Linked DNA regions of Homo sapiens: region 2 is linked to region 1. A link means that fine-mapping ties the variant in region 1 to the expression of a gene that starts in the linked region. Tissue or cell type: whole blood. Region 1 holds a variant in brackets; the other region holds the start of a gene. All regions are shown on one strand. Distances are from middle to middle.

What was found.
Region 2: AKAP1 starts here. The variant in region 1 is fine-mapped to the expression of AKAP1 in whole blood (TOPMed, PIP 0.95).

What each region holds. Positions count from the first base shown.
Region 1 is chr17:57,106,175-57,121,518 of GRCh38, reverse strand. AKAP1 (A-kinase anchoring protein 1) reads right to left here. Exons shown (of 11, transcript NM_003488.4): 2 at 14,341-15,344; 3 at 11,361-11,494; 4 at 9,595-9,721; 5 at 8,901-9,028; 6 at 6,883-7,060; 7 at 5,258-5,408; 8 at 4,592-4,659; 9 at 3,065-3,138; 10 at 2,475-2,537; 11 at 175-1,269. The coding sequence ends at 1,195. Among named protein-coding and RNA genes, the nearest start is that of AKAP1, 29 kb to the right of the region's middle. RefSeq lists a silencer at 7,157-7,451 and an enhancer at 12,049-12,650. The variant C/T (reference allele first, on the strand shown) is at 11,602.
Region 2 is chr17:57,077,660-57,093,003 of GRCh38, reverse strand. It overlaps AKAP1 (A-kinase anchoring protein 1), which reads right to left and starts at 7,758. Exons shown (of 11, transcript NM_003488.4): 1 at 7,606-7,758. AKAP1-DT (AKAP1 divergent transcript) reads left to right here and starts at 7,966. Exons shown (of 3, transcript NR_186437.1): 1 at 7,966-8,164; 2 at 13,594-13,717; 3 at 14,301-14,710. RefSeq lists enhancers at 1-120, 1,043-1,592, 6,680-7,182, 8,222-8,301, 13,215-13,953 and silencers at 6,712-6,801, 7,082-7,381, 7,422-8,001.

The sequences.
Region 1 (15,344 bases):
GGACAAGGAGAGAGAGGAAAAGGCCAGATAGAAATTTCTGGCCAAATTGTCTTCAAAAAACCATGGGTCTCCTGCAGAGGCAGTTGTGTGGGGCCTGTGATCCAGCTCGCCACACTCACCACCCCCCCCCCGCCAATTCTTCACCACTGGAAAAAAATGGACTCAAAGCTGCAGTTCATACAATTGAAGATTTATGTAAGTTACTTACTTATTTTTAAACTGCACAATGCTGAAGCCAGTCTAAAAAAGAATCAAACACACCACTGCAAGTTAATTCAATGAGTTACTTTTTTTTTTTTTTAAACAGATTTGTACAGCAAAAAGTTCCCAGATCACAGTCTCTACCATACAGTCACCTGTCCAGTGTGCAGGAAGCCACAGGGGCCCTGGCCAGAGGGGCCAAGAGCAGAAGCTGCACTGCAGAGTTTACTTCTACCTACAGGTGACATGTGGCTGGAAGAATCTTGAGTTCCCTTTGTTCTCCAGTGTATCTTGTACAAAATATTACATTTGTTTAAACACATATTTACAGAGTTTGCACAAATAGAAAATGGTTACAAATTACAACCAGGCTTGGCAGGATACCAGTTCCCCTCCCCACTGACCAAGGTCAGATGTGATGACCATTTCATATTTACAGTTGCAATTTAAAAAGTCTGTGTTTAGAGACCTAAATGAAGTTTATAAAAACTGGTTAAATATCATCAACTCATTTATGTAAGCTGTACAAGTAGTGGATACCAATTAGTCAGTTCATGTCTTGCTCCCTGAAGAAAGATTTTGAAGTAAAAGAAACCCTCTCAAGCAAGCAACATACATCCCTGGCCTGTCTGCCAGTTTGTTTGGTTTTTGCCGGGGAAGGAGATAGAAGGAAGAAGAGGGGAATGGAACAGGGGGAATAGGACAATCTGGTTGAAACTGTTTCTATTCCTTTTTTTTTTTTTTTTTAAACAGCTGAGAACCAGCATAAGCCAGCTGGCTTGTTAAACACTATCCTTTGGCTTTGCGAAGAGAACCCATAGTTCCATCCTTTTTTCTCAGAGACGAAATGTCTTCTCAATAGGACTACAGTATGGAGAAAGAAAGGACTTTCTGGAGAGGACAATGTTTGTTATTCCGATGTTCATCTTTGACTTGAGTGCCAAGCCCAATTTCAACAGTGCAAAAAAAGACTCTCAGGAAGCAGCATGGGGGTCAAAGGCTTGTGTAGTAGCTGTCTACCCACTGGGCAAGGCCTCGCTCCACCAGGGACCGGTTTATCAACACCACCTAGAAAAGAAAGTTCCCTTAAAGCTTTTGTCCATGGCATCCTGGGGCCATCTCCCTAGCCAACATGAGTTCTCCCCTCCCCGGTTGCCACTGCAGGCAACAGATGTATGAGAGTAACAGTGTAGGCCAGACGCAGTGGCTCATGCCTGTAATCCTAGCATTTTGGGAGGCTGAGGCAGGTGGATCACCTGAGGTCAGGAGTTCGAGACCAGCCTGGCCAACATGGTGAAACCCCGTCTCTATTAAACATACAAAAATTAGCCAGGTGTGGTGGCAGGCACCTGTAATCCCAGTTACTGAGGCTGAAGCAGAATCGCTTGAACCCCGGAGGCGGAGGTTACAGTGAGCCAAGATCACGCCACTGCACTCCAGCCTGGATAACAAGAGCAAGACTGTCTCAAAAAAAAAAAAAAAAAAAAGAGTAACAGGGTGGGGGACATGGCTTATGCTCTAGCCAACAGGAACATTTATTTAAGTATTCTGTTGGCTGCTGTGGCATAAGGATAGGGTTTTTTTGTTTTTGTTTTTGTTTTTTGAGACAGAGTCTTGCTCTGTCACCCAGGCTGGAGTGCAGTGGCACAATGTTGGTTCACTGCAACCTCCGTCTCCCAGGTTCAAGTGATTCTCCTGCCTCAGCCTCCCAAGCAGCTGGGATCACAGGTGTGCATCACCACACCCAGCAGATTTTTGCATTTTTAGTAGAGATGGGGGTTTCGCCATGTTGGCCAGGCTGGTCTCAAACTCCTGACCTCAAGTGATCTGCCCGTCTCGGCCTCCCAAAGTGCTGGGATTACAGGGGTGAGCCACTGTACCTGGCCAGGATAGGCTTTTTAATATGCTGAAGAAATCTAAGCTTTCATACCATAAGATAGAGGACAGAAAAACTCAACAGACAGAAGGTCCCAGAAAGTCTCGCACAGGGTTTCTCCACCTTGGCGCTATTGACATTTGCGGTTGGATAATTATTTGCTGTGGGGGGCTGTCCTGAATACTATGGGATGTTTAGTGGCATCCTTGGCCTCTACCCACTAGAGGACACTGACATCACCACTGCCAATCAGGACATCCAAAGTGTTCCCTAGGAGGTGCTTGTCTACAGTTATATCCTCTGATTAACTCAAGAGGAAACAAATCCCAGGACCAGCTCCTAATCAATCCATTACTTCGGGCCAGCAACACAGAAGGAAAAGAAGGGCAGAACTTACTTCATCTCCAACCACACTCCACAGCTGAATCAGAGGAAGACCAGTTGGACTGTAACTTGTCACCTGAAGAAGGGGGGTGGAAAGAATAATATGGTTAGGTTTTGTGTCCCCACTCAAATATCATCTTGAATTGTCATCTCCATAATCCCCATGTGTCGAGGGAGAGACCTGGTGGGAGGTGATTGGATCATGAGGCGGTGTGCCCATGCTGTTCTCGTCATAGTGAGTTCTCATGAGATCTGATGGTTTTATAAGTATCTGACAGTTCCTCCTTCACATACTGTCTCTTGCCTGCCCATCATGTAAGACGTGCCTCTTCCCTTTCTGCCATGATTGTAAGTTTCCTGAGGTCTCCCCAGGCCCGCAGAATTGTGAGTCAATTACACCTCTTTCCTTTATAGATTATTCAGTCCCAGGTATTTCTTTACAGCAATGTGAGAACAGACTAATATCAAGTATTAGCTACTTCATGCACCTTTCCTTAAATACTGCTGGTCAATCCAGGGCCAAGCCACAGGAAAGAAGGCATTGAAAGGTCAGTTCCCAAGAACCCAGCCAGCCTGCCTCCCCCACCCCTGCCAACCACACACCTGAGCAAGCAGTGCTGTATTCCCCGTCATCTCGCTCATGGCGGCATCTGCTTCCGGTGAAAACTGGTCATCGTCTTCAGGAGGAAAAGGAAAAGCGGCATTTAGGCTCTCACTGAGGCAAGGCACCCTTGTCATGTACACAAGTTTCAGGTGCATTCCAAGTAGAATGCTTCAGATGCTGTGGAACTTGAGAACTGCACTGGGGAGATCCACCCAGGTCAGAGACAGAGCCTAGGCCTCCATATGACTCCCAGTGGATAAACTAAGGGCCGCTACTGCATGTTGCCCACTGGTGCAGCACAGACAACAGATGGACAGAAACTTCACCACTAACACCACCACCAATACCACCAGCAGCAGCACCACCCCCACCCCCACCAACTCGGATGCTGGCAGTGCAGAGCATATGTGTTCTTCCACAAAATTAGTAACACCAAGTGCTATCCCCACTTTACAGGAGAGAACACTGAGGCAAAGGTGGATTCCTGAAGGTCAACCAGCTCCCAAGTGGTGAAGGTGGGAATCAAACCCAGGCAGTTGGCCACACAGCCCAATAAGGCCAGCCACTCAGAGTGGGCAAGGCGCTGCGGCAGCATTCAGCTTTGCTGGATTACAAAAGTTACATAGAACACCATACCCAAGGCAAGCAGTGGCAAGGATGGGAGAGACAGGGGTTTACCAAGGAAGATCCGGGAAAATCTTACGAAGGAGAAAGTTTCAGCTGGGTCTGGACAGATCGCTTAGATGGACAGAAGCAGAGAGGAAGGAGGGGCAACAGCAATAAAAGAAGCAAAACAAAGATCTTGCCCCAGTGCTCCCTCTAAGCCGACTCCAGCTAGACTGTAGTATTTCTAACGCATGCAAATCGCTTAAGACAAGCAAGAAGGAGATCAGAAGGGGCAAACCTGGGGAGGGAGTGGGATGGGATGAACTATCACCTACAAATATAAAATTCCTAGCCATAAACAGCTGCCATTTCGCCACCCTCTACACACCAGATCTTAGGTTTATGTAATTCTCACAGCCAGCATCAAAGACAGGTACCATTCCCATGTTCTGGGGTGAAAATTGAGGCTAAGTCATTTACCCAAGATTTTGCCAGTCCTCTTCCCTCTGACAATGCTTTCATAGTCTAAGACACCAGATAGGGTGTCCCCACTGTGCCCTATGGAGCTATGGCCTGGCTGAGCAGTATCAGTGACCAGCACGCCCTCAACCACCGGGGCTAAGACTCTGGGTCTGGACTATAATCTGGAAAGTGCCTTTGTTGGAAGCCCCTTGATGCCTGAGGTCTGAGTACAGTCTAGAGCAGTGGATCTCAAAGGATCAGCAGCACTGGTCTCACCTGGGAACTTGATAGCAATGTAAGTTCCTGGGCCTAAGCCCAGACCTATTCAGTCAGAAACTCTTGAGTGGTAGCAACTTATGTTAGCATAAATCCTCCAGGTGAGAACGGAGGCTCTGAGAAAGACCTACTCTCAACAACTGTCCCCAACAATCCCCCAAGCCAAAGGCCTCAGCTGTTACCTGACAGGGGCATCACACTGTCCAGAAGGACTTCTGCTCCCTGAAACGGCAGGGTGACAAAGTCAGACCTGGGAAGGCAAGAAAGGAACAAGTTTAATGTGGACATGAAGGCTGACTCCACTCCAAGCCAGTATTCATCTTTGTACAGTGACGCCCATAACCTGGGATGCAGCAAAGCAGAGGGTTCGTACTTTGCAGGAGGCCACGGCTCACAGCACACCCAAACACAGCCAGCCGACCCTGCTGCAAGCCTGACCTCAGAGGGACTTCCTATGACAAATTCCTAAAAAGGAGCCTGCTTCACTTTTTTCCTTTTTTGTTGATGTTGTAGAGATGAGGTCTCGCTATACTGCCCGGTCTGGTCTTGAACTCCTGCACTCAAGTGACCCTCCCAAAGCGCTGGGATTTGCAGCAGGCCACCACGCCTGGCCCAGCTTCACTTTTGAAGGATGATGCTGGGGATTCTTCCACAATACAGGCCTTCTAGCTCAGTTTGGCTAAGCGAGTAATCGAGTTTGTTTCTATCAGACTCTGCTAAAACACAGTAGGCAGCAGGAGGGAAGAAGTAACCCTCACCCAAGCCCTGGCACAACTGAGCCAGCCACGCAGAGATCACGCATCCCAGAACAAGCAGGGCGTAGGCCTGCCTGAGGCATCTCCGCTCACCTGATTTGCCGGAGCACGTCTACTTTCACCCTCTTATATCCGCCGTAGTCCACGTATCGAATCTCCACTTCGTTGGTCTCCTCGTAGGAGGCAACCACTTGGGCTCGCCACCAGGCCCCGTCCGCACCAGGGGCGGCACAGATGACCGTTACTGCAGGGTAGGGAGCAGAGTGCGTGGAACGCCTGGGCCAGGGCAGGGCACCAAGGGCCACCTGGCCACTACCCACCTCCCTGCGTTACCTCTCAGAGGCCTGCAACCTCCACAGTGCAGGGGACAGGAACAGCAACCGGCCCCAAGCAAAGCCTCCCCCAAGCCCAAGACCAGCCGAGGGAAAAACCTGGATGTGAGAAGTTCAGCCTAGCAAGTGTGCCGCCCCCGAGGCCATCCAGACTGAGAAGCATTCAGTCTAGATCCATTACTCCAAAACTTCTGGGACCCAAGAGGGACACAGATGAATAGGAATAAACCAAGTAAATATAGCACTCGGGGAATGGGGGCCAGGGCCAGCCTTACATTTAAAAGAAAGTCCCTGAAGAAATCAAGTGCAGCAGATCTCAGCATCCTCATACCTAGGGTGTGCTCCAGCCCACAACTCAGCTGGAGAGCTTGACCAGAAGGGGCCTCCTGGGCCTAAACCCCCTTCTTCTAGCCTTTGCCTCTGGAAGGTGCTGACAGCACCTGGGCAGCCACCCAGGATCAAGGAGTCACTAACCCACTGTGGGTCAGAGGCAGACGAGACCAGGAGGTAAACGTTCCCAGCAGCACCCCAACAGCTGCCCACGCTGGCCAGGATGAGGACCTGTGACATGAGGCTGACTGTGCTGGGTCCTGACCCTTGGAGAGAACCCCTGGCAGTTACCCCTCAGGCTCCAGTTCAGTCTTTACTGCTGGGTTAAGGCAACTTTAGAGAAGCCAATGAAAACTAAGTCCTTATCCTTCCAAAAGGAAAAAATCCACACAAAAGGCTACAGAGATCACTTCAGAAGGTTTTCTACTGCACTGAGTGACCCTGCCATCCCCTGGTGAGGAATGGGTGATGTTCTGACATTCCATCCTCTGTGATAAGGACAACAAAGATAATAATGACAAAGGCTGGGCTCAGACCCCAGATCCTGCTCACTTGGGCAAGTCACCTGAGGCCCAGTTTTCTCATCTGTTAAATGGAGATGACCCAACACGCTGCACAGGCTTGTTGGACTTGGGGATTTTTTTGTGGTAACCATTATATGCATAAGTGCTTTATATGTAATACATACAGTATTCAACACTAATTCCTGGAACAAGTGGGTATCACCCCCTTTAACAGATAATAAATAGGTGGCAGATACTATGACACTGGCTTTGAGGGAAAAAAAAAAGAAAAAATTAAAAAAAAAAATTAGTGGCAGAGCTGGGATCTGAATCCCTGTGTCAAAACTCTACTCCAACACCCATCACTCTGCCAGCCAGTGGAAACCCCAGCTCTGCCTTGCCAGGAAACCCACCCCAGCTCCATAACAATGGCAAGAATTGAAGGATGCTGCTTCCATGAAGGATCGCAGAACAGCCTCCTCCTGATCAGGATCCAGGGCAGAACAGGCAACCCCAGGGGTCCCCCTTCCCGACCCCTCAGGGCACTGCTTACTTTCCACTGGGGTGGGCAAGGTGGGGATTCCAGGCTGAGAGTAACAGAGGTACATCTGCTGGTCGAGGCTGCGCAGCGCGTGGAAGGTAGGGTGTGTGTGCTGCTGCACGAACAGGTGCCCGGCATTGACCTGGTTGACCACAATGACCTCCACGGTGATGCCATCAGGCAGCATGAGCTGTAGAGGGGAAGGGGGAGCGGTCACTGAAACAATCCTTCTTATCTCATCTTTGAATAAGTCCCGAGACCCAAGGGCAAGTCTCTGGGCTAGCATATCTTTGAAAAGGGCAACTCAAGACAACATGGCACCCAGAAGGTAGAGGTTGAAGGACTACTTTAACAACAGAAAGTGTTCGACACCCCTGTGGCTGTTGTCCTGCAATACCACGAGCAGCCATTAGGGGCAGTCTCACCTCAGGGCCAGGCAGGGAGGGTCCCACAGACACTGGGCAACCAAGAAGCAACTGCGGAGGTAGTGCTGGGCCTTGCACAGGCCTGGGCAGGGTCCACCTACCAGCAGTGCCCTCCCTCCCACTTCTGTTGATGAATCTATAAGACCCAGGGAGGGCAACACAGGAATGAGGTGGCCGCTGAGAACAAGACTCCTGAAAATAAGCAGTAGGCAGGCCCCAGGCCCTTTAGCCAACTCCTGTGGACTGGCAGACAACCCCAGGAGCCTATGGTCTGACAGCATCTACGCTGCCCTCCCAAGAGCAAGCAGTGGCCTCAGGTCAGGTCCATGGTCAAGGTCTAGCAGAGTCTGCTTCCTATTTGCTCTCCCTCCTACTGCTTACCCTCCTGAGGTCAGGAGTTCAAGACCAGCCTGGCAAACATGGTGAAATCCCATCTCTACTAAAAACATACAAATTAGCTGGGCATGGTGGAGCACACCTGTAATCCCAGCTACTCAGGAGGCTGGGGCAGGATAATCGTTTGAACCTGGTGGGCAGAGGTTGCAGTGAGCCAAGATCATGCCACTACACTCCAGACTGGGCAACAGAGTGAGACTCTGTCTCAAAAAAAAAAAAAAAAAAAAAAAAAAGAGAGTGAGTCTACGACCGAGCCTCCTGGGAAAAAACTCTTGATTCAGGAGTAAAGCATAAAGTGGTATTCAGCCTACTCTCACATATCCACAGGAAAAAGATATCCCAATCCTTTCCCTCCAGCCCAAGGGCCTTTGCAAAGGGGAAGACACAAAACTGAAATGCCTACCATCCATAAAAAAACAAAAAAACAAAAAAAAAACACGAAGGAGGACAATTTCCTTGGAGCTATAGTCAGCCCATCTGTCCATCTGTGTAAAACGTAGTCAACAGTCGTTGGCCCACAGAATTCTGCAATTCTACTCCCAGTGAGATAAGACCCAACCAGGGCCAGAGGCACACGGCAGGATATGGGCCACGGCCCTGAGAGACCCTGCAGTCAGCAGCACACAGGGGCCCTGGAGATAGCAGCTCTTCCCTCTGCCAAACTCCTGGGGCAACCTCCCAAGAGTCACTGGACTTCCGGGCCTGGTGGGGAGTATTCATTCTTCTTTGTAATTTAGGCACCTCCTGGGGAGGGGAAGGGGAAGGAGATCCTTCACCAGGGCCACTGTTAAGGCCTGACTCAACCAGAAGAAAGAACAAGCGCCATCCAAACCCATGATTCTAGTCCCACCCAGGTCTCAGGTGGTGAACGGCGACCCTGGACACACCCAATCTCCTGTCCGAACTACACCATCCTTTCTAAGCAAACGCCTAGAAAACTTAAAAGGTGCCCAGGGGGAGAGCCAGGAAAAGTAGTCCTCCCATGTGGGGACCAAGAGGCCTCTGGTTTCCTGCCAGCGCTATCACCACCTAAGCCCTGTCCCCAGAACACAGTCCCATAGCAGAACCGACCAGCAGAGGCCAGAGAAGAGAGGGCGCAGGCACTCATGTGCACTTGGCCTTCTTAGCCTGAGGTCTGGGGAGTTTCTTGTTTGGGGTAGGTTTGGGGGAAAGTGGCAAGAAGTCCGGATCACCCAGTAGCACGCTCACCCAGGATGTCATCGGCAGAGAAGGCAGTGCCAGTGAAGGCAATGGGGGAGCGTAGATATTGGTGAGGTTCAGCTCTTTGAACTTCTTCCCAATCAAGTTCAGCGCTTTGTCTACATGATGTTGAGAGCCTAAATAGCGGATGGGGGCAGGACATACAATCACTGTAAGAGGAAACTCACACCCACACTCACAAAAACACAGCCACAGACCCCACTCCACTGGACTTTGCATAGAGTTCAAGTGCATCTTTGAGGTAACAAAACACTTAAGCTCTGCTTTAGGAAGAAAGGCATCTAAGCCTTTCAAATGATACCTCTGCCATTATGATCCATGCTTTCAATGCAACAGAAGAGGCAGGCAGCTGTGAAAATGCCAAGGGGGAATTGCACACAGGGCACTTCTGCTTTGAGAGAAGCCTTTATGGGGTGGTGGGCACTATGAACCCAGGACCCAGGCCCCGCCCAACCAAGCACCCACACTTCTCCTGGCCAAAGATCAGAGTAGGGAGGGACCTGAGTCTCCCGCAGGCACCTGAAATGGGGAAAAGGCTGCAGGGAAGATACCTAATGCTCCCTTCCCTGGGATGAGAAGCAGGGTTTCCTATTCCAAAAAGATAGCAATTGAAACTCAGATGCTATTCACTTCTATTTAATATTTCAGGTAAGAGGCAATACAAGCAGCAGATGTTACTGACCTTCTATGTGGCAGATCTGGACGCTCTGGGTGTAAGGCAGGGTTGAAATGTAGATCTTGGCACCAGATGTTTGCTTCAGAAAACTCACATAGCGCCCCTGCTTGCCAATTAGCCGACCGACTAAGTGCTTCCAGAAAGACAAAAAGAGATGAGAGGGTTAAAGGGAAACCAATTCCCTGGACACCCAAAGACCTACTTCTGTTTTACACAAGATCATGCTCAAACATATTAGCTGTTACCATGTCAGCATTTATTTTCCAGGACTATTCTAAGCACTTACATTTACTCATAGTACCTGTGAAACACAGATAACTTTATCACCATTCTGTATATGGGGAAACAAGCCCAGAGAGGCTAAGTAACTACCTTAAGGTCACACAGCTGCTAACCAGGAAGTCGAACCAGGCAGTCTGGCTCCAGGACCAAGCAGTTCCCATTTCATCCCAACAATGTGGCCCAGACCCGGAAAGCTGCAAAGGCAGCAGCATCTTCTCCTCTAAAAGCCATGCTGAGAAGTTTCACCAGCACACAGTTTCTCGATTTCTCGTGCCCCTCTCCCTCAAGTCTACTCAGATCCAAAGATAAAGGGGCTCGATTTGAAAATGAAGGTCTAAGAACCCTGGGCTCCCGCTGCCAAGTGACAGCAGGCTGAAGCCTGCAGAGCAGGAGGCATGCAGAAGTGCCCAGTGCGCCAGAGTTCAAGGCAGATAGAAGCAGCCAAACTTAGCCCTTACGTAAGATGGGCTCCCACACAACCGCCAACGACCCCCTCCCGGAGGAGCTACTGGGGACATGGTCCATCCTCAGGCACAGCCTTTCTCTTCATGCCCTTTGTAACCACTGAAGGAAAAGCAGGCAGGACGGATAACAGGGCCCCCCAGGGAGGAAACCACCAAGAGACCTCGCAACCCAGGGTCAAAACAGCCACTCTGACCCAGAGTTCAGACCAAGCCAAGTCTCCACCTGAGCACAGAGCCCAGGGCCCTGGGAGAATGCGGTCTGACAAATTATTTCTGAGCCCCAGAGATAAACATCAAGATCAAGCTAATATGTTGTAAGTTCTAATAGCAAGAAGCTCGAAACCACTTAAGCACTCAGGAATGGGGGACTGATGAAGTAAACTGACATCCACACAGTGAATAATGCAGTTACAGTTACATTTTCAAAGAATAACACACGAAAATTAAATTGTTAAATATTTAAAGTATTAATTAAAGCGACATAATCTCAGTTTTGTTTAAAAACCACAGGGTGCAAGATGAGAAGGAAATAAAAGTCTTTCACAGTCACTCTCAAGGGTAGGATTAGAGCTGATTTTTATTTTCTGCATGTATTTCTATACTTTTCAAGTTCTCTAAAATATGGATTTATGCTTTGCTCAATTATAAAATACACTTGGAGCACTTGAGCAGAGCTCAGTGAAGGGATTCTGGCTGGCCCCCACGGCCTTGGTGTTTTTTTTCCAAATAGATCTGAGCCCCAGAATATGCAAGAACCACCCCCAAGGGAGACACACAGGCCTGCGAGTTTGAGAAGTACAAGAATAAGATGCTCCTGGAGGCAGCTGGAGGAATTCCATGTTGCAGGAAGCTCTCTGAGCCTTGGCAAAGTGTAGCGTGTCCTTTCCCTGCGGCCTTTGGCTGACCCAGGGCTCCTTCTGGTTTACTGTCCCTCTCCCAGCCCCCTCCCTCCCTGAGGTCTAATGGCCCTGGCCCCAGGGAGCTTTGGGCTTACCACAGAACCAGCCTGGGGGACTCCGCCCCTACCTTTGGCACCTCGATCTCCCAGATGATGAGGTCGACCTTCTTAGGGTTGGAGCCTGCCTGGGCATTTTGGAAGCTCTCAGTCTTCTTGAGACTGCAACAGCTATCCACGGAATCCATGCTGTTCCTGTCAGAACCTGCAGGGGAAGAAGCAGCAGGCACGCACACACACAGACCCCACTCAGAGCAGCCAGTAACCAAGAACTTCCCAAACTCACATTCCCAGGAGGCCCTGCCCCACACC[C/T]GCTCCTCAAGCTTGGCAGGTGACTGTCAACTTACAGTCTAGAAGGCTCAGAACAACCCCAATGAAAGGAGAACTGGGGGTGTCGATACACCTAATTTTAGCCTGTCACTTACAGTCCCACTTGCTTAATTGGCAGCCGCACCCAGCCACAGCTGCTGGAGCAGAGACACAAGTGGTGAACTTGGAAGAGACAGACTGCGCCCAGGGAAGGGGAGCCCAGAGGGCGGGGGAGGAGACACGCTTGAGGTCCACATGGTCCTGAGAGCCAGACCGATGGACCACAAACACCTTGACACCCTTCCAACTATCCTACCCCCTCAGACCAAGGGTCAGTCTCCTGTCCCCAGGGCCCAGTCCCAGGGTCATAGGTACTGGCCTTCAGCCCAGCAGAGCTAGACAAAGTCCTCACTGGCCTGCCTGAGGGCCCCATTCTTATACCTAGCGGGGACCCGCTCGTTCCTCTGCCATATGTGGACTAAAAAAGGAGAGTCTCCTTTCCCTTTGCTTAGGCCTGATTCATGCAACTCTGAACACTCTTCTGGCTCAAATACTCCCTTGGTCAAAAGACTGAGCCAAAGCTCATGCCCAAGAAAACCCAATGGGAACAGACTCTGCTCCCGACCTGGGCTGTTCCACTCTCACTCAAGAGCGTGCCAAAGGGACCGTCACAAAAAAGCGGGTCCAGATCAGCTCAAGAGAAGTGGCCCTGGCTTAAATATGGATGACTCAATCACCAGAAATAGATCACTCCTGAGAGTCTACCAATTAGGTTACCTTCCACATGGTTTCTCCAAACCCTGAGTATAATCCTTTGCCAAGTAACCCATACACTGGATGCAGAGAACTAAGGCCCAAGAGATCCTGCTCCCAGCTAAGGAAGAATCACCTTCAAAATGACTTCCCCCCTTAACACTAGGCGCTTCGAACAGGATTCATGCAGGGAAAAGTACCCCTTCTGGGGGAAGACTGCTTGGCTAGCCTGCGGGAAGCATAACAGGCTGACAGGGGCTGGGCGAGGGGGCGGGGAGCTCTGCTCACTCACAGTATCCAGCCTCTGCCCCACAGAATGGGACTGGCTAACACCTGCCATCCCGATGGCTCCCAGCAGTGGCTCAGAACCACACCCGGACTCTAGCAGGCTGCACTCAAAGGCCAGCTTCCAGCTCCCTCAGTGGGGTGGTCCCTGGTCCCCTTCTCAGCTTCAACTTCCTCACAAACAAAGCAGGGCTGACATGAAGGTACATGCGAGGCACTAACCTCGTGCTTGGCACCCACCGCATGCTCGTGGACAGTATTACCTCATTTCCACGTGCCATCCCTAAACCTCCCTGCCCATCACCACGGCTTAGGTTCAAGCCTAAACTCAGAAGACTTCAACAGGTCTGAGTAGCTACTACTATCCATCTAGAGTTGGCAGACAAGGCTGCGGGGCTTGTTAATTCAGCTGAGGGGCAGTAAGCAAAGGGAAACTCCTTTATTCTTAAAAAATAAATAAAATAAAAATCACCCATTTTCAGATGCAGTATTTTAAGAAACATTTAAACATCCCGAGATTAGGATGCATCATATAGTATCTTGCCTTCTATAATCATGACTGGCAGCACTTTTTTCTTTCCAAGGTACATAAAAACAGTAGTGTCTTAACAGCATCTTGGAGGTGACAAAATGTAGCGTGTGGTACAAACTAGATGCTGCTGAAAGTGGTAAAATTCCCAATAAAGATTCCCAACCTACCCGGAGCTGAAATGGGAGGGAATGGCTCCAGGACAAACAAGTCAGAGAGCCACTCGGGATATTCGTGGCCTCTCTCCATGAGATAAATGAAAACACCCCAGGGTGCCTGCAGAAGCAGGGTCAGGAGCTGCTGACCTGTAAGTTAGCGGTCTGAACTGTCTACGCTGGGGTCAGCACTCGAAAAACCCAGGACACCTCGTTATCAAAGTGCCCCGCTTTCCCGGGGGTGGAGCTGCAACTGCACAGAAAGAAAATGGCTGAGGCTTTCTGCAAAGGTGACAGCGACAACTCAGGAAGCTCAAGCCTCCCACAAGTATTCAAAGCTGTGGCCGTTCTTTGGGCACTTACCCTGTAAGAGCTTCTGGAGAAGGAAAGCAGGTGAAGACATGGGAACAAGCACATGATTAAAAGGAAATAAAAACCATTCAAAACACTCACACCCATACCTGGCACTCAAGGGAAGTAAAGCTAAGGAGGCCTCTCCATTAAAACACACACACACACGCACACACAAAGAGGTTAGTGTTTAAAAAAGAAAAAAAAATGGGCTGGGCATAGTGACTCACACCTATAAACCCAGCACTCTGGGAGGCCGAGGGCGGAAGGATCACTTGAGCCCAGGAGTGCGAGACCAGCCTGGGCAACAAAGGAAGACTCCATCTGCACCAAAATAATAATAATTTTTTTAAACAAAGAAAAAGAGGCACACTAATGTTAATCAGCGAGCCCAACTTGGCGCTAGTTCCTTGGGAAGGGCTCACTGGGGAAGGTCACCGGTTGAGGAACCAAGTTACAGCTCCCATGACTTGGGGTTTCAGGGCAATCTAACTCCTCAGTTACCCACCAGCTCTACGCCGTGTCCAGACCTCTGCAGGTTGCGATAAAGAGCTGAAGAGCACTATGACTTTGCTGCACAAGTAGCAGAAGGGAGAGGCAGACTGGCAGCCTTTCTCCAAGAAATACTGGGAGCGCCCCATCCTCTAAACGAACCCGAGACCCTCCTACCTCCTGAATGATCTGCTTCCGCATCCATGGTCCATCCATCCTCAGCCCCCAAGTCTGACAACTCCCCCTTCAGCACCCCATTGCTGAAGGGCACAGTACTTTCTGGCAGTGGCGGGGTGATGGCCTTGTCCCTGGGGCTCGAGCTGGTCTCTGTGCAAGAGTCTTCAAGCCCTGAAGTGCTGAAAGAATCTGAGCAGTGTCCTGGAGAAGCCACCAAAGGGACACTTTGGCTGCTGTCTGACATGCAGGTGACACAGGTGGCATCTTCCACCAGGATGCCTGCCCGGTCCGGCAACTCTTCACTGGGGGTGGTCAGTGCCAGGCAGGAGGCCAGGGAGATGTGGTGTGCAGAGATATTTGGCTTACTGTCCTTGGTGGGGCTGGACAGAAGGCTCTTCAGGCAGCTCACGTAGGTCTTTGGTGGTGGTGAGCCCTCTGCTGGTAGGCCTGGCAAGGGGAGGCCAGCATCCGGCGGGGCAACAGCTGCCTCTGCTGTGGCAGGCTCCGCAGTGTCTGGGCCCAAGACAGTTTTCTGGTGAACTGGGACACAGCTCTCTTCCTTCTGCCCTTGGAGCTGACTGGCCTGACACACACGACCTGCAACCTTGCCAACCGTGGTGGCCAGCACCTGTTCGGTTGCTTCTGAGATCACTTGGGAGATTATCTGGAAGGCAGCCCGCTTAATCTCCTCATTTCTATCCAAGCCCTCCTCATTTCTATCCAAGCTCTCCTCATTTCTATCCAAGCCCTCCTCATTTCTATCCAAGCCCTCCTCATTTCTATCCAAGCTCTCCTCATTGCCCAGTTCTCCCTCGACACCTCTATCCTGGGCTTTGGCGTCTGCGACTGGGGGTGCTGGCGCCGCATCGTCCTTTGCCAGCTCTGTGTGAGCCGACTCGATGAACCTACTTGGCAACTTCTCTGCTACATACTCTTCCTCCTGCACTGGCCCCACCACCTGGGATGAGCTGCTCTTCCCCTTATCTTCTTCCCCCTCTAAAGAG
Region 2 (15,344 bases), 29 kb after region 1:
TGGAACACTTGAGAACTGTGCCAAGATCTGGGGGGAAGCAGGAGGAGAGCGGGGAGAAAGTTCCAGGCAGGAAGAACATGTGCCAAAGTCCTAAGGCAGGAACAGGCTTGGCTGACTCAAGAGGTAGCAAGAGGGGAGGTGAAGATGAGGCAGAGCATGGCTCTCAGAAAAAGGGCTCTCCAACATCACTGCGCGGAAGGCCAGTCGGACTCGCAAGAACCCCAAGGGACACGGTCCACCAAACTTTCTCCAGAGGGGAAAGCGATGTGCCTGAAGAGCCAAGGGGCTTTAGTTCTTAATTAATAAGCAGAAGCTGCTTCCAGACTTGATTCCTGAAACAGGATGCCTCTGTGGCTGGTAGCATGACAGGTACACTGTGTAGGTAAACAGGGGCTTGCTTTTACCTTTAAGTTCTCAGCGAATACACTTGCCAGGAAGCCCTGTGGCCACACCACACATTAGCCTTACAGAGCCACCACTAAGGGTAAGGGATAATAAGCCCCCCTTACTCTCAGGCTCCCTCAAAGGAACCTGTTCCAATAAGGCAGTCCAGCCCCAGGAGGCGGACACACACAGCCTACGTAAGCCCTTGCCACTTCTTTGAATCAGACTTTGCAAAAAACAACCTTGCTCTCCAGCCAACATAAACCATAGGCAACAGAGGGCCTTATAAGGCTTGAAGCTTTCTTAATCAGAAACAGTTAGATGGGCTGGAGTTAGCAGCTCCAAGTTAGAGGGAAGGAGGAACTGAAAAGGAGAGAAGAAAGGGTGGCCTAGGGAACCAGCAAGCTTGCTGGTCAAACTGCTTTTTCATCCCTCTTCAGCTTCTGTGTCATCACAGTAAAGAATTCTCACCGGGGGTCTATGGCCATGCCTCCTTTCATGTTTGCATTTTGGTTTAAGCCAGAGGAATCAGACTGCCCACCAATCCACACTATTAGAGAGTTTTTAAGTGTCCATTTAGTGGCCAGCCTTTAGGCTGGGCAACTTCACACAAAAATGAAGTTATGGGGCCAGGCACGGTGGCTCACACCTGTAATCTCAGCACTTTGGGAGACCAACATGGAATGATCACTTGAGCCTAGGAGTCTTGAAATGGGTCTGGGCAAGGTGATGAGACCCCATCACTACAAAAAAAATTTTTTTAACTAGCCAGGCATCATGATGTGCACCTATAGTCCCGGGTACTTGGGAGGCTGAGGCAGGAGGATCCCTTGAACCCAGGAATTCAAGGCAGCAGTGAGCTATGATCGAGCCACTGTACTCTAGCCTGGGTGACAAAGCAAGACCTCATCTCTAAATAAATAAATAAATAAATAAATAATGTTTTTAATGGGGTTATGTGGTTTCCTGAAAAATTGCCTGCTGGGGCAACAAGGGGTCCTCACTCCCCAGGCAGCAGTCTGACACCTAGCTCCCCAGCTCCCCAGCTCCCCGGGCTGCCTCAGTCACATGCCTGCCTGCACCAGGAGGCAGGCTGGGCCCCTGCCACAGATCCAGAATAGAAAAGGCAGCCCTGGAGACCTCTTAAGCAGCCACCCCCTCCACACACCCCTTGGCAGCTTCCAGGGTGGCTTTATTCTCCTCTCTCTCCTGACGAGGCGGTGGCAGCAGAGACAGCAGCAGCTTTGGCACCAGGACCTGTCCCGTACACTGCAGCCACATGCACTTGGCCCTCCTAAAGGATGCCACCTGCTAAAAATAGCACCAGCACATGCTTGGCCAGGTGAGCCACACCAAAGCCAAAGGACAAAGCAGGGAGGTTATTTGCAGCACGGCCTTTTCTCCCAGAGACAGCTAAAGGCACAGCTGAGTGTGGGTCTCCCTCCAAGGCAGTTCAGGAAAGTGAGAATCACTCCTGCTCCTTTTTCTTGGGAGTGGCAGAAAGGAGGGGCAAGAAGGAGTGTACAGAAGACTGAACTGTCCTTCAGATCTGTCATCGACCCAACCTCACAAAGGCACATCCAGGCCCAGGCCAGAGAAGGGATGGGGGCTGGGGCTGTGCTTGAAAAGATCTTACTGCCTCCTCTAATCAGGAGGCCAGCTACTGCTGGGTGACAGCCTTTGGAGGGCCAGGAGATGGTCTGTGACCTCCAAGTGAGGTCTGACAGGTGTCGGGAAATTAGTGACTTCAGGATTGTCTTTTTCAATCAGCTCAGTCTTCAGAGCAGTTTCCCTGAGCCCTCAGGCACAGCTTTTTTTATTCATAGTCATTACTTGTGCATTTCAAAAGCACCCGATGGTTGCATAATTCTGATGATAAAATATGGCTTTGGAAAGACAAGAGAGTTAAGAGTAGGATCCTGTACTTCAGTTTCCCATAAAATGAAGATGTTCTGTAATAGGGAATATCTCCCTCACAGAGTTGTAACGAGGCTGAACACACTTAAGTCAGACTCCATATGTGGGATCAATGATTTTAATCTTTGTAAAACCCAGTTTAGTTTCCTGAATGAGGATGTGGTGATAAAGGGGCAGTAAATAAGCAACAACCAATGAGCATGGGGGGCGGCAGGGGCAGAGGAGGAGGTGGGGAGCACGCCCCAGCCCAGGTCCAAGCCAGTCCAGCCCTTGCTGTGTCCAGGGACCAGTTTACTCTACTCGGATCTTGTTTCTTCACCCACAAACTAATCACTGTACTAACCTCATAGGGCTGACAGAGAATAAAAATGACACAGAAAAAAAAAAGCCACTAATATGCCAGTAGGTGCTCATCAGTAAGTGTCCTTTATGCTGCCTGGCTCCAAGAAAAGAGATCTCACATTATATATACCAAAGGTCAATCTAGCAGGGTTCAAACAAAGCACACCCAGGACTAGAAGAGGGGGCATCTGGAAACAAAGAACTCCCCACCCCTGCCACAACAGAACACGTTAGCATCCACGCTGTGGCCCCACTCTCCCCCAACACCTTCTGTGAAGAATGGCCCCTAACATTTAGGTGGACTGGAAACAGCAGAATGAAAACACAACCTCGTTTAAGAGAAGGGCCGCACTGAGATCTGTAGGAAGTCATCAGGTGGGTGAAGGACCAAGTAACAATATGTTGACATCTGACATTTGGAGACCAAGGACAAACCAGCAGGGATCTTTATGATAATAAACGGCTTCAAACCAAAAGGGCTTTCTAAGGGCTTAGCATCTGGACCTTTGCTTCACGCTCCTGTCCCCAGGTCCTTTCTGAAGGTCCTCACTCAAACTGTTTCAAAACTGTTCGTCCACTCCCAACTGGCAGACTAGAACTCACTTGTAGTATGCCATGGAGACAACCAGTAGATAATTTGTCACCAAAGCTGTTGGGTTTATGGACTCTGGAAGACTAAGCTCAAACATGTTATGCTTTAGAGATTTACAAGTTGAGACAATTAAGCTTTTAGAGTTGGAGAAAAAAAAACTTTCTAGGCCGGCGCTGTCCAACAAAACTTTCTTCGATTATGGAAAATGTTCTTGACCTGTACTGACCAGGACGGCAGCCACTAGCTACACGAGGCCACTGAGAACCTGAAATGTGGCTAATGTCACTAAGAAATTTTTTTAAAAATACTTTGAAAAGTTTAATTAGTCACACAGCTAGCAGCTACCCTACAGACAAGGCAGCTCTAAACTCCCCACACCCAGGACAAATTTAGGCAAATAAAGCTATCTTTAAAAATAAAAAATATTTAGAACAGTAGCACACCTTAGAGCTAAGAACTTGAGATGAACAGTGAGTTGTTTTTTTTCCCCTTAAGTCTTTGACATGTACTACCCATTGAGCTGTGCTCCCCAGCCCAAACACATCACTCCAGTGGCCCCTGGGCACGTTTGGTCTAACTCCAAGGCTCCCAGGACCATAATCTGAATACTGATAATTTTGACCAAACCTCTTTTAGCCACTGAATAAACCAAGATCTGGAAGGCCAACCAGCCTGCCTAGAATCACCGCCAGGTTTCAGCTCTGAGAGCTGCAGCAAGTCCCAGGCTCTTGTCAGCTAAGCCCAGCAGTGAAACAAGCCTCATCAGCCCTAGGTTATACATATTTTTACTTCCAGGACTCACCTCAGGGCCCTTCTTTGCTCCCAAGTGCAACTGGGCCTTAGTGACACCTGGCTCGGTGAACACAACCAGCCACCATTACAGAACAGGGAACACAATGTTTACCACTGACTGCTGCAAACTATCAAACCAAGCCGGAAAAACAACCAGATGGTGAAGACCCGGACAGAATGTGGACAAGGCTGCACCATTTAGTAAAATGAAAAAGTTAAGGCAAAGGACACCTTGAAAGCTATTTATTGCTGGAAAGCTAGTTCTCAGAATGCTGAATGATAACACACACAATGTTAACAATCTACTTAGAAAGCAGCAGAAAGATTAGGAGAAAAGCCCAGGGATTTAAGAATATTCCTTGGTTCTTCTCACAAAAGCCATCCAGAGGACCTAGTTTTAACTCCACACCCACGCTTCCTAGTTCCTCTACCCCTCAATTTGAATTTGTGTGACAGCCACTGAAACAATCCAGAATGACCTCCAGCTTCACCCTCACTGTTCTCAGAGGTGTGAGGATTAAAGGATTAGTGTGCTCATAACTCACCTAGCACAGTAACTATCAAGAAAGAGGCATCCTCTCAAGTTTAGCTCCCAGCTCCCCCACTACCTGTTTCTCCAGCCAGACTCTGTCCTACTTCAAACATGCTCACTGATGATGTTTTCCACAGCCCAAGCTTCAAATTAGGTACCAAGGCCAGGAGGTTCCTTCAGTGGGATGCCACATGTGATGGGAACTTAATGTTAAATGATCATAAAAGTGAAAACTGCCTGAGGTATTACACCAGGAAGGAACATGGAAGAAACAGAACTTGCCCTAAGAAGCAAGATTTAGGACTAAAATACACCCCCCACCATAAAGATGAGCAACTCTCAAACAGTATATGAGATGATTTCAATGGGACAAGATGCCCACAGGATCTACTACCTCCCCATAGTGGAAGAAAACGCCTGAGAATGACAAGCTGAAGGTATTAACTCATACCTGAAACAACTGACTTCCCCACAATAGGAAAACAGACCAAGCTACAGAAAGGCCCAATCATTCAGACTCACAGGGAAGATTAGGAAGGAGTGACCTAGGGGAACTCTACGGCCAGCTCTCTGGGTACATTGGCTACAAGCTGCCTGCTCTTCAAAGCCCTGAAATGCACACACAATCAAGTCATGTTGCAGGCTGGGAGCAGGAGGCTAGCCAGCAAAGCTTAGGGAAACCAATTCGTTTTTCCTCCCAAACAAGCTTCTGGGTCAGAGGCTAAGGAGAGGGGTGCTTTTAATAGAATTCAAGTCACTCAAGTAATTCAAGAGAAACAAAGTCAGTCTCAGGGATTGTTCAGGGAGGAGAGGGGAAGAGCAATGCTTAAGCACCTATCACAGTCCCCAGTATCACAAATATGATCTCCATTTGTCTTTAGGACAGGAAAAGGGAATACTGTAGAGGCTAACACCAGCCTTCCCCTAAAATATGGCTGCAACCCAGCCTATGTCCAAAGCTCAAGAATAATTTGGGTTACCAGGCAGCAAGATAAATTGCTTTTAAATATTGATGTTCAGCAACCTTACACTGGAGACATATCGACTTCAGCACCTGAGCAGGCCACTTACAACAGACACCTCCACTGTCACCCTGCAGTGGCCAAGTGAGAATGCATTTCCTAGAAACAACTGGGAGATGGGAGAGATATTCCTACAAGGAACTAGACCTAGACACAAATCCATTAGACCTGTCTCACTCATTGGCTAGGATCTGTTACCTGCAAGTTCTGAGCCATCATCTGACAACATGCATGAAGACAGAGCCTATTAATCCAGTAATGGACTCAAGCTTTAGTGATTTGCATGCCTGTAGGATCCAGAGGACCTCCTCTAACCTAGGGCCATATTTCAAAGAGAATACACCCAAGAATTATGCAGAACCTACAAAACTAGTTAGAGGTTAAAGAAAAGTTCAACACAAGTCAAAAGGTTCCCAAAACATAACTTCACTTGCTTCCAGTGCTCAGGGTCTTAAATAATCAGCAGGTGAACCACTTCAATGCCAAGATCAGAGGAATTATATAAATGATCAAGTCAGGCAGCCTTCTTCATTTCAAAGATGTTCTGTACCTTTAAGAGCAAAGTGGATGGGTGGTGCTAAGAGTCCAAGCTTTGCTTTCTAAATAAAGAGTTAAAAAAAAAAAAGGTACTAATTTGGGAAGGACTTAGCAGTTACAAGAGCTTGTAAGGCTACTAGTTGCCAGAATTAATAGCTTTTTGTGAACGGTGTTCCTTGATCAGTAACTAACAGATACTGTTGCACCAGGTCCAGCAGCCTAGATTTCACTGGAGACAAATCTAAACACGAAGTAACGCGCACTACAGTAGGGGAAAGATACCCAGGTTAACCTCACTAATTGCCCTGCGCATACACCCTACCCAGCTTGAGAGGCCTCGACTCGCACCTGGAGCGAAGTCCACCGGGTTTGTGTTAACGGCGGCAGGAAGGCGCCGCCACCCAGGACATCCCCCAGGAGAGGAAGATCCCGAAACGCCCAGGGCTCCCATGCCGTTCCGAGTCGCCACAGCACCGCCTACCACGATCAGCACCTTTCTTCTCCTATCCCTCCCTGGAAGGGAAACAGGAAGACCTTCAGCTAGGGCACAAAAGAGTTGAACGCCAGAAAGCCCGCGTTCGAGGCATCCAGCCACTGCCTCTCCTAGCACATCGTAACCCCAAAACTGGCGCGGTCCCTCCAGATCGCAGACCCCGGGCCCTGGGCCGCAGGCGGGGCCGGACACGTGACCGTCGGGGCCCCCGGGCGTGAGGTCGGCAGACACCCCAGGCTGGACGGCCTCCACCCCTCCGGACACGCCTGCAGGGGCTACGAATGCAAATTCCCCCCGAGACGCCCCTGAGCCTCCGACCTCCAGACCCCAATTCGGTTCGAACGGTCCCTCAGCCCGAAACACGGTTGGATCACAACCGGCCGATGTCCCGGCCCATCTTCCCAGTTCCCCTGGCTCGCCGCACGGAACTCCCAGGGGCTGCGCCGGCGGGCGAGCCGAGGGTGAGAAGTTGGGCGAGGCTCCAGAAGTGAAGGGGCAGCTCCGGCTCAGACTGTGTACACACGACCTTTGAAAAGTAAACGCCCGCGGGGCTGGGCGACCTTGGGTGGGACGCGCTCGGGTCAGCCTCGCAGGCGGGTGTGCACGCTCCGGTTAAGTTGAGGTGCAGAGAGGCGACCCGGGCGTCGCGCCCTCGCCCCCCGCCCCCGAGGACAGTGACGCGCGTGGGGAGGACGGCGCGGCCGCAGAGCGCCGCCCAGAGCCGCGCACACGCGATCTGTCAGGAGCCCGCGGGCAGACAACCGGCGGGGAAGGACGAGAGGGGGCGCAGACGAGGGAGGGAAAGATGGGCCTGCCTGACAGCGCGCGGCGGCCGAGAGCCCCCAGGACACCTCTGCGTCCGGAGCGTCCCGCCCCCGGGGTACCTGGAGGGCGCGTCGCACCCTGCACCTGCACCTCAGGCTCCCCATCGCCCCGACCCCGCCGCCTTCGGGTCTCCGGCAGGGGGTCCCCGGCGCAGCTGCCCCCGACCTACCAGCTCCTCGGCTACCATCGGGGTGCGGGATGCGGAGTCCGCGCGCCGCCGCCGGCCCCCGGCTGTGCCCCGCGGCCCGGCCCGCAGCGCCGCGCTTCCGCAGCTCCCCCACGTGCTAGCCCAGGCGGGTGGAACACAGAGACATTAAATACTGAAGACGCGCGGCGACGTGCCCGCAGCGCGACGCAGGCCCCGCCCCTCGCCCTTGTGCCCGCGCGCTCCCGAGCCCGCCCCGCTCACCTGCGCGTGCGCGCCGCCGGCCGCTCCCGGCAGTGCCTCCGCCGCGCCTCTCCCAGCTGCGCCAGAGGGGGCGCGGTCTACAGCGCTGGGCTAACATCCCGCCGCCGCCCGGAGCCGGGTCTTGCTCGCGCTCTCGCGAGAGAGCCGTCATCTCTCCGGTGCCCGGGAGAGGGGCCGGGCGGGACGGTACAGCAACCGGAGGAACCTTGATTCCCTGCCCCGCAAGCCCAGCACCGGTTTTGCCGCCTTGTCTCGAAGGGTCAACCAGGCCATCTCCTGCCTCGGGACGGAGAGCGCCCTGGAAAAGGCGGAGGGGCCGGTGAGGAGCAGGGCTTCCCTCGCTTCGGGGCTTTGAGCTTCCCTGTGACCGTCATTTCCTTGTAGCGTATAATTGGGTTGGCCATTAATAATTGCTCGATAACTGCATAATGGTGAAACCTGGTACCACTCAAATGCAACTTTCTTGCTCGTTTTCACAAGTCGATGTTATCGAAATGAAGCACTTTTCTCTGAATTGGTGTGGGTTTTGGAATGATTTTTGCAGAGATAGTCACGGTGAGTCACTATCTCTGCCAGGACCTTGGGAAAATAAATTCCTCCAAAATAAATGGAGAGGGTAGGGTTTTGGCTGTCCAGCCCTGCTGTCATCCTTAAAACAAAGTGACTTTAAATGAACATTTGTTTGGCCAAAATATAGAAAATAGATCATGCTAAGAACTAACAATTACTTGGGAAAATGCTTAATCTTCACTAGTGATCAAATGCAAGTTTAAATGACAGATGCCATTTACTATACCTAATGAGATTTAAGTCAAATTCATATATATATGAATCCCAATTGCATGGTGTGGTAGATGTCAGGAAGGAAACAAATAGGAAACTGACATAGGAAAGAAAGAAAAAGAGCCCTATTTTTTATTTTTTTTTTTTTGTGAGACGGAGTCTTGCTCTGTCGCCCAGGCTGGAGTGCAGTGGCACGATCTCGGCTCACTGCAAGCTCCGCCTCCCAGGTTCACGCCATTCTCCTGCCTCAGCCTCCCGAGTAGCTGGGACTACAGGCGCCTGCCACCACGCCCGGCTAATTTTTTGTATTTTTAGTAGAGATGGGGTTTCACCGTGTTAGCTAGGATGGTTTCGATCTCCTGACGTCGTGATCCGCCCGCCTTGGCCTCCCAAAGTGCTGGGATTACAGGCGTGAGCCACCGCGCCCGGCCAAAAAGAGCCCAAATGTTTTAGGTCCTGTGGTCAGAAAAGGCCTAAAATGAAATTTAAACTGAGACCCATTGGATGAGAAGGAACCAGCCTTGCAAATTGTATACGGGCATAAGGGTTGGAGGAGTATTCCTAGCAGATGCACAACACAGGAAAAAGCAGGAAACAACTTCTGGTAAACTGGAAGACCAGTGTGGATGGTATGTATTGAGGGAGGGAGTGTCAGGAAAGGAGATAAAGAGGATCGTTTCTTGTCTTTGTTTTTTGGGGGAATAGGGGCCTGGGCTGCCTTAGTAAATACTTAGTATTTGCCATAGTAAATAGTGAAGCTTGGATTTTATTCTATTCTGTTCAGTCCCAAAGCCAGTCATGACTCTACCTCAGGGCCTCCCTCCACATGGAATATTCTGCAAAGCTCACTGTCTTCACCTCTTTCAAGTCCTTTGCTCAAAGGTCACCTACTCAGACTCAGTGAAGTCTTCCCTGGACTCTCTGTTTTATTTTATTTTTTATTTTTTGAGGAGTCTCTGTCACCCAGGCTGGAGTGCAGTGGTGCGATCTCAGCTCACTGCAACCTCCACCTACCAGGTTCAAGCGATTCTCCTCCCTCAGCCGCCAGAGTAGTCCCACTACAGGCACGTGGCACCATGCCCAGCTAAAATTTTTTGTATTTTTAGTAGAGACAGGGTTTCACCATGTTGGTCAGGCTGGTCTCATACTCCTAACCTTAGGTGATCTGTCCGCCTCGGCCTCCCAAAGTGCTGGGATTACAGACGTGAGCCACCGTGCCTGGCCTGGACTCTCTTTTAAATTGTAAACACACACACACACACACACACACACACACACACACACTCTCTCTCTCTCTCTCTCTCCCCATCCCTCACCCCATCTTTCCTTCATAACCCTTACCCCTGTCTAGACTTCATTTATTTCATGAGGGCAGGGATTTTTGAGGGCCTGGTACATAGAGGGTGTTCAGTAAAAATGTGTTTCGTGAATGAATAGGAAGCTATTAAAGAGGGTTAAGTAGAGAGTGACATAATTTCTGTTTTTAAAAGCAAGCTGTAGCTGCTGTGGGAAGAACAGATTAGAGAGAGATCAGTGTCGAATCAGGGAGAGTAGTGAAAGAGGATGCTGGACGTGGTTCAGGTAAGAAATGATGCTAGTTTGAGCTAAGGATTATGGCTCTGGGGATGAAGACACTGCTTTGGACTTAAGATATATTTTGAAAGAGGAGCAGACTTACTCATGTTGTTGGTGGTAAAGAAAAAGGAACAATGAATGCAATGAATGATGATTCTTCTGGCTTGAGTTACAATGTGAACTGGGGTGCAATTTCCTGAGAAGGAGAAATCTGAAGGCAGAGAAGTGTTGGTTTCATTTTTGACCCATTGTTTTTGTGACATCAAAGTATAAATAGTAATTAGGTTGGATATGCAAGTCTGGAGCTCAGAGGAGTGGTCTGAATGGGAAATACAAATATGGTTTGAAAATCATGTTTAAAAAGATATATTAAAGACAATGCTAGGCCGGGCACGGTGGCTCACACCTATAATCACAGCACTTTGGGAGGCTGAGGCCGGTGGATCACGAGGTCAGGAGTTCAAGACTAGCCTGGCCAACATGGTGAAATCCTGTCTCTACTAAAAATACAAAAGTTAGCCAGGCATGTTGTGCACCTGTAATCCCAGCTACTCGGGAGGCTGAGGCAGGAGAATCACTTGAACCTGGGGGTCAGAGGTTGCAGTGAGCTGAGATCGCATCACTGCACTCCAGCCTGGGTGACAGAGCAAGATTCCATCTCGGGGAAAAAAAAAAAAAAAAAGGAAAAAAAAAAAAGGCAATGCTTAGCAGTAGTGGAGGTAGGAATAGAAAGAAACTGAGAAAATGATGTCCAGGGATGTAAGCCCTGGAAGCATTGGTAGGAAAGAAAAACAGGAAGATGGAAGGAGTAAAACAGCGAGATGGGGCTATGAATATGGTTATGAGAAAGAAGGACAAAGACCGGCGGTGAATGAGAGAAATATGTCAGTCATACCCGATGCAAGGGGACATGGGCACAGCCTGCCAGAAAAAAGGAATGAGGGAAGAAAAGAGGAGTGTGTTAACTGGAATACTAGAGAAAGTGCAAGATACAAGTCAAAGGGGGAAAGGTGAGAAAATAGGATTGACTACAATCACCATTAGACCTCAACCCAGTACCTGTGGCTGAGGAAGTATCCACAAGGTCTGAACAGTTCCAAGGTCACCACGGTGGCCCTAATATAAGATTAGAAAGTAGAGGAATGAGAAGAGAGGTGAGGGTGGAAGGTGATCCTAAGAACTTGGCCATGAGGAAAATAAGATAAGGTTGTTAGGCTTCAGCTTTGTCAGCTCAAAAATGGGCAAGGTCTGCCTAAGGCAGGAATTTTAACCTAGGATGCATAGGAATTTAACCTGGGACATCAAGGTTGTCCACAACACCCTGAAATCATTTGCATGATCTTATAAATACGGCATTTTTTTCGGTACAGATTAGTTATGGATCATTTCTATCAGACTCTAATCCTGACCTTAACAACAACAACAACAAATTAGAATCTGGTGAATAGAGCAAAACATTTTATCCAGAAAGGAGTATGTCAGTCAGAATAAGAAGGTAAAAAATAAAAGTATTCGAAGGAGACCAAAAAAATAAAAATAAAAATAAAAATAGAAGAAGTAGTAAGTGTCTGTGAAAGGAAGAAGGTGTCCAATCTCATTTAATCAAGAAGCTGGGCTCTCTGAGAAGTCAAACCAGTCAGATCTGAACCCAATGCTATTATTCATTTAAATTCTATGACCCAAGCCCCTCACTCTGACTCTGTACCCACCCAGCAGCCTTCTGATCATTCTCACTAAGGAGAGAAGCCATGATCGGACTGATGAAAGGCACTGGTCCACCAATGACATTTTTATCATTATAAATTACATAACCTACCCTCTCTCATTTTCTGTATCTTGTACATCATGTGAATATTTTTAGTATGAGTCAGCTTTCAGTTCTGGGACTTGAACATGGTGAAGTTTCTGAACCTGTTTTAAAGCTAAGTGAGGGCTTGACACAGGACCATGGGAAAATCCATCAAGGTAAATGCCACCTTGTGAGTCTCTTTTTAAAAGGTAGTTAATTCTCATGCATGTAATCCCAGCACTTTGAGAGCCCAAGGCAGAAGGATCGCTTGAGCCCAGGAGTTCAAGACCAGCCTGGACAAAATGGCAAAACCCCATCTCTACAAAAATTTTAAAAATTAGCTAAACAGGCTGGTACTTGCCTTTAATCCTTGCTACTTGCAGAGCTGAGGTGGGAGGATTGCTTGAGCCCAGGAGGTTGAGGCTGTAATGAGCTATCATCACACCACTGCACTGTAGCCCAGGCAACAAAGTGAGACTCTGTCTCAAAAAAAGAAAAAACAAAAACAAAAAACAGTTAGCTAGTTAATGAGCCGGGTGCAGTGGCTCATACCTATATAATCCCAGAGCTTTGAGAGGCAAGGCAGGAAGATCTCTTGAGGCTAGGAGTTCAAGAGCAGCATGGGCAATGTAGCAAGACCGTATATCTACAAGAAAATTTTAGAAATTAGCTCGATACGTGGCCAGGTGCGGTGGTTCACACCTGTAATCCCAACACTTTGGGAGGCTGACGCAGGAGGAGTGCTTGAGCCTAGGAGTTCAATACCAGCCTAGGCAACATAAGAAGACCCTGTCTCTTACAAAAAATAAAAAACATTAGCTGGGCATGGTGGTGCTCACCTGTAGTCCCAGCTACTCAGGAGGCTGAGGCAGGAGGATCTGCCTGACTCCAGGAGGCTGAGGCTGCAGTGAACTGTGATTGTGCCACTGCATAGCAGCCTGGGCAACAGAGTGAGACCCTGTCTCAAAAAAATTTAAAAAAATTTGCTGGATGTGGTGGTGCACTCCTGTAGTCTTAACTACTCCAGAGACTGAGGTGGAGGGATGTCTTGAGCCCAGGAGTTCAAGGTTGCAGTGAGCTATGATCACACCACTGCACTCCAGCCTGGGCAACATAACAAGACTCTGTCTCAAAAAAAAAATTAGTCAGTTGGTTTTCTTCTCTTGGCAGTCCCTCCAATTTCAGGGGCACATGTTTGAGAAATGCCCTACTTTTCTATTGGAAGCATCTACAGAAAGAACTTTTTTAGTGCTAATAAATACGAACTGTCTCCTTTATATGTATACACTGAAGGAGCCCTCCCACACTCCGCCCCACTCCCAGTTCTCTTAAAATGGAGATGCATTTGGTTATGCCCCAGGACCATGTGTGCCTGCAGGGAAGAATAAATAACCCACTCCTAGAGAAGTCAATGGAAAGAGCTGGGGGAATAACAATACTAATGGCACTTAAGTAACTAAGGCTTAATGAGCACTTAATGCCCAGCACCATGCAGAGTCCTTTATCCTAATCCTCCATCAACCTCAAATACTAGATACTCTTGTTATCTGTATTTATTTCTGTATCACAGCAATCTGTATCACTGTATTTCTGTTCCACAGACCTTAGTCACACAAGAGCGATGGCAAGATTTTCACCCAAGCCATCTGACTTGGAACCCATGGATTAACCAACTGCCACTGGAGGCAAATCCAGAGACCAAGGGAGCAGTTTATACAGAAACAGGTCTGTTATGGGTGGAATTAGGTCCCTTCAAAAGAACGTTGAAACCCTAACCCCCAGTACCTCAGAACGTGACCTTATGTGGGAACAGGGTTATTGCAAATGTAATTAGTTAAGCTGAGGTCATCCTGGGATAGATTAGACCCCTACTCCAGTGTGACTGGCGTCTTTATAAGAAGACAACCAGGCCGGGCGCAGTGGCTCACACCTGTAATCCCAGCACTTTGGGAGGCCGAGGCGGGTGGATCACAAGGTTAGGAGATCAATACCATCCTGGCTAACACGGTGAAACCCTGTCTCTACTAAAAATACAAAAAACTAGTGCAGCATGGTGGCATGTGCCTGTGGTCCCAACTACTTGGAAGGCTGAGGTGGGAGGATCACCTGAGCATGAAAGGTTGAGGCTGCAGTGAGCTGTGATGGTGCCACCACACTCCAGCCTGGGCAAATTATGTTTTGGTCGGGCGCGGTGGCTCATGCCTGTAATCCCAATACTTTGGGAGGCCAAGGTGGGCAGATCGTGAGGTCAGGAGATCGAGACCATCCTGGCTAACATGGTGAAACCCTGTGTCTACTAAAAATACAGAAAAATTAGCCGGGCATGGTGGTGGGCGCCTGTAGTCCCAGCTACTCGGAAGGCTGAGGCAGGAGAATGGTGTGAACCCAGGAGGCGGAGGTTGCAGTCAGCCGAGATCGCGCCACTGTACTCCGGCCTGGGTGACAGAGCGAGACTCCATCTCAAAAAAAAAAAAAACAGAAGACAACCATGTGAAGGCAGGGAGACACAGAGACAGCACCATGTGACGACAGAAAATTGGATTAATATATCTATAAGCCAAAGAATGCCAGATCGCCAGCAAACCACCAGAAGTAAGGAAGAGGCAAAGAAGGATTCCCCTACAGGTTTCAGAGAGGGAGCATGGCCCTGCTGACACCTTGATTTGGACTTCTTCCCACTAGAACTGTGATACAATAAATTTCTGCTGTCTTAAGCCACTCAGTTTGCAGTATTTTGTTACAGAGGCCCTAGGAAATTAACACAGTGCCCTTCTTTCTTGAACCATGGACAGCAGTTGGTAAAAGGGAACGTGATGTCATTCAGAACATGATAAAAGAGGGCTGTCCGCTGACTCCCCTCTGAACCTCAGGTGCCCTGGCTTCCCAGGGCAGGAGCCCCATCCGGGGGCTGTGATGAAGGGGCCTGCTACCCAGGCACCATCACCACCACATACTACTTGGGAATTTTTTAGCTAGTTATTTAAGATCCTGATTCTGGTTCTGTTTAATGGGTGGCTGTCAGGAATATGGTTGGCCATATTTCCCAGCTTCCCAGAGCCCCCTCCATTCTTCCCAGCTTCTTCCAATTGGAATTTAGTTTAGAAATGGAGCCTAAGAAACTCTGCAGACTCCTTCAGGTAGGGTGAGGTTCTATCCACAGCCAATTTAGGTCCTTTAACTACAGCAAGGTTCATGCATGTAGAGAAGCAATTAAATCATCAAACACTGTTACTTACCTCATTTGATTCAATGGGAGATACCTTCTGGTCCAACTATTGAGATCCTCCTGGAGGCCACCCAACCATGCTGGATGCCTGTGTATGGGCATTTGAATTGCTTGAATCTGTAGGGA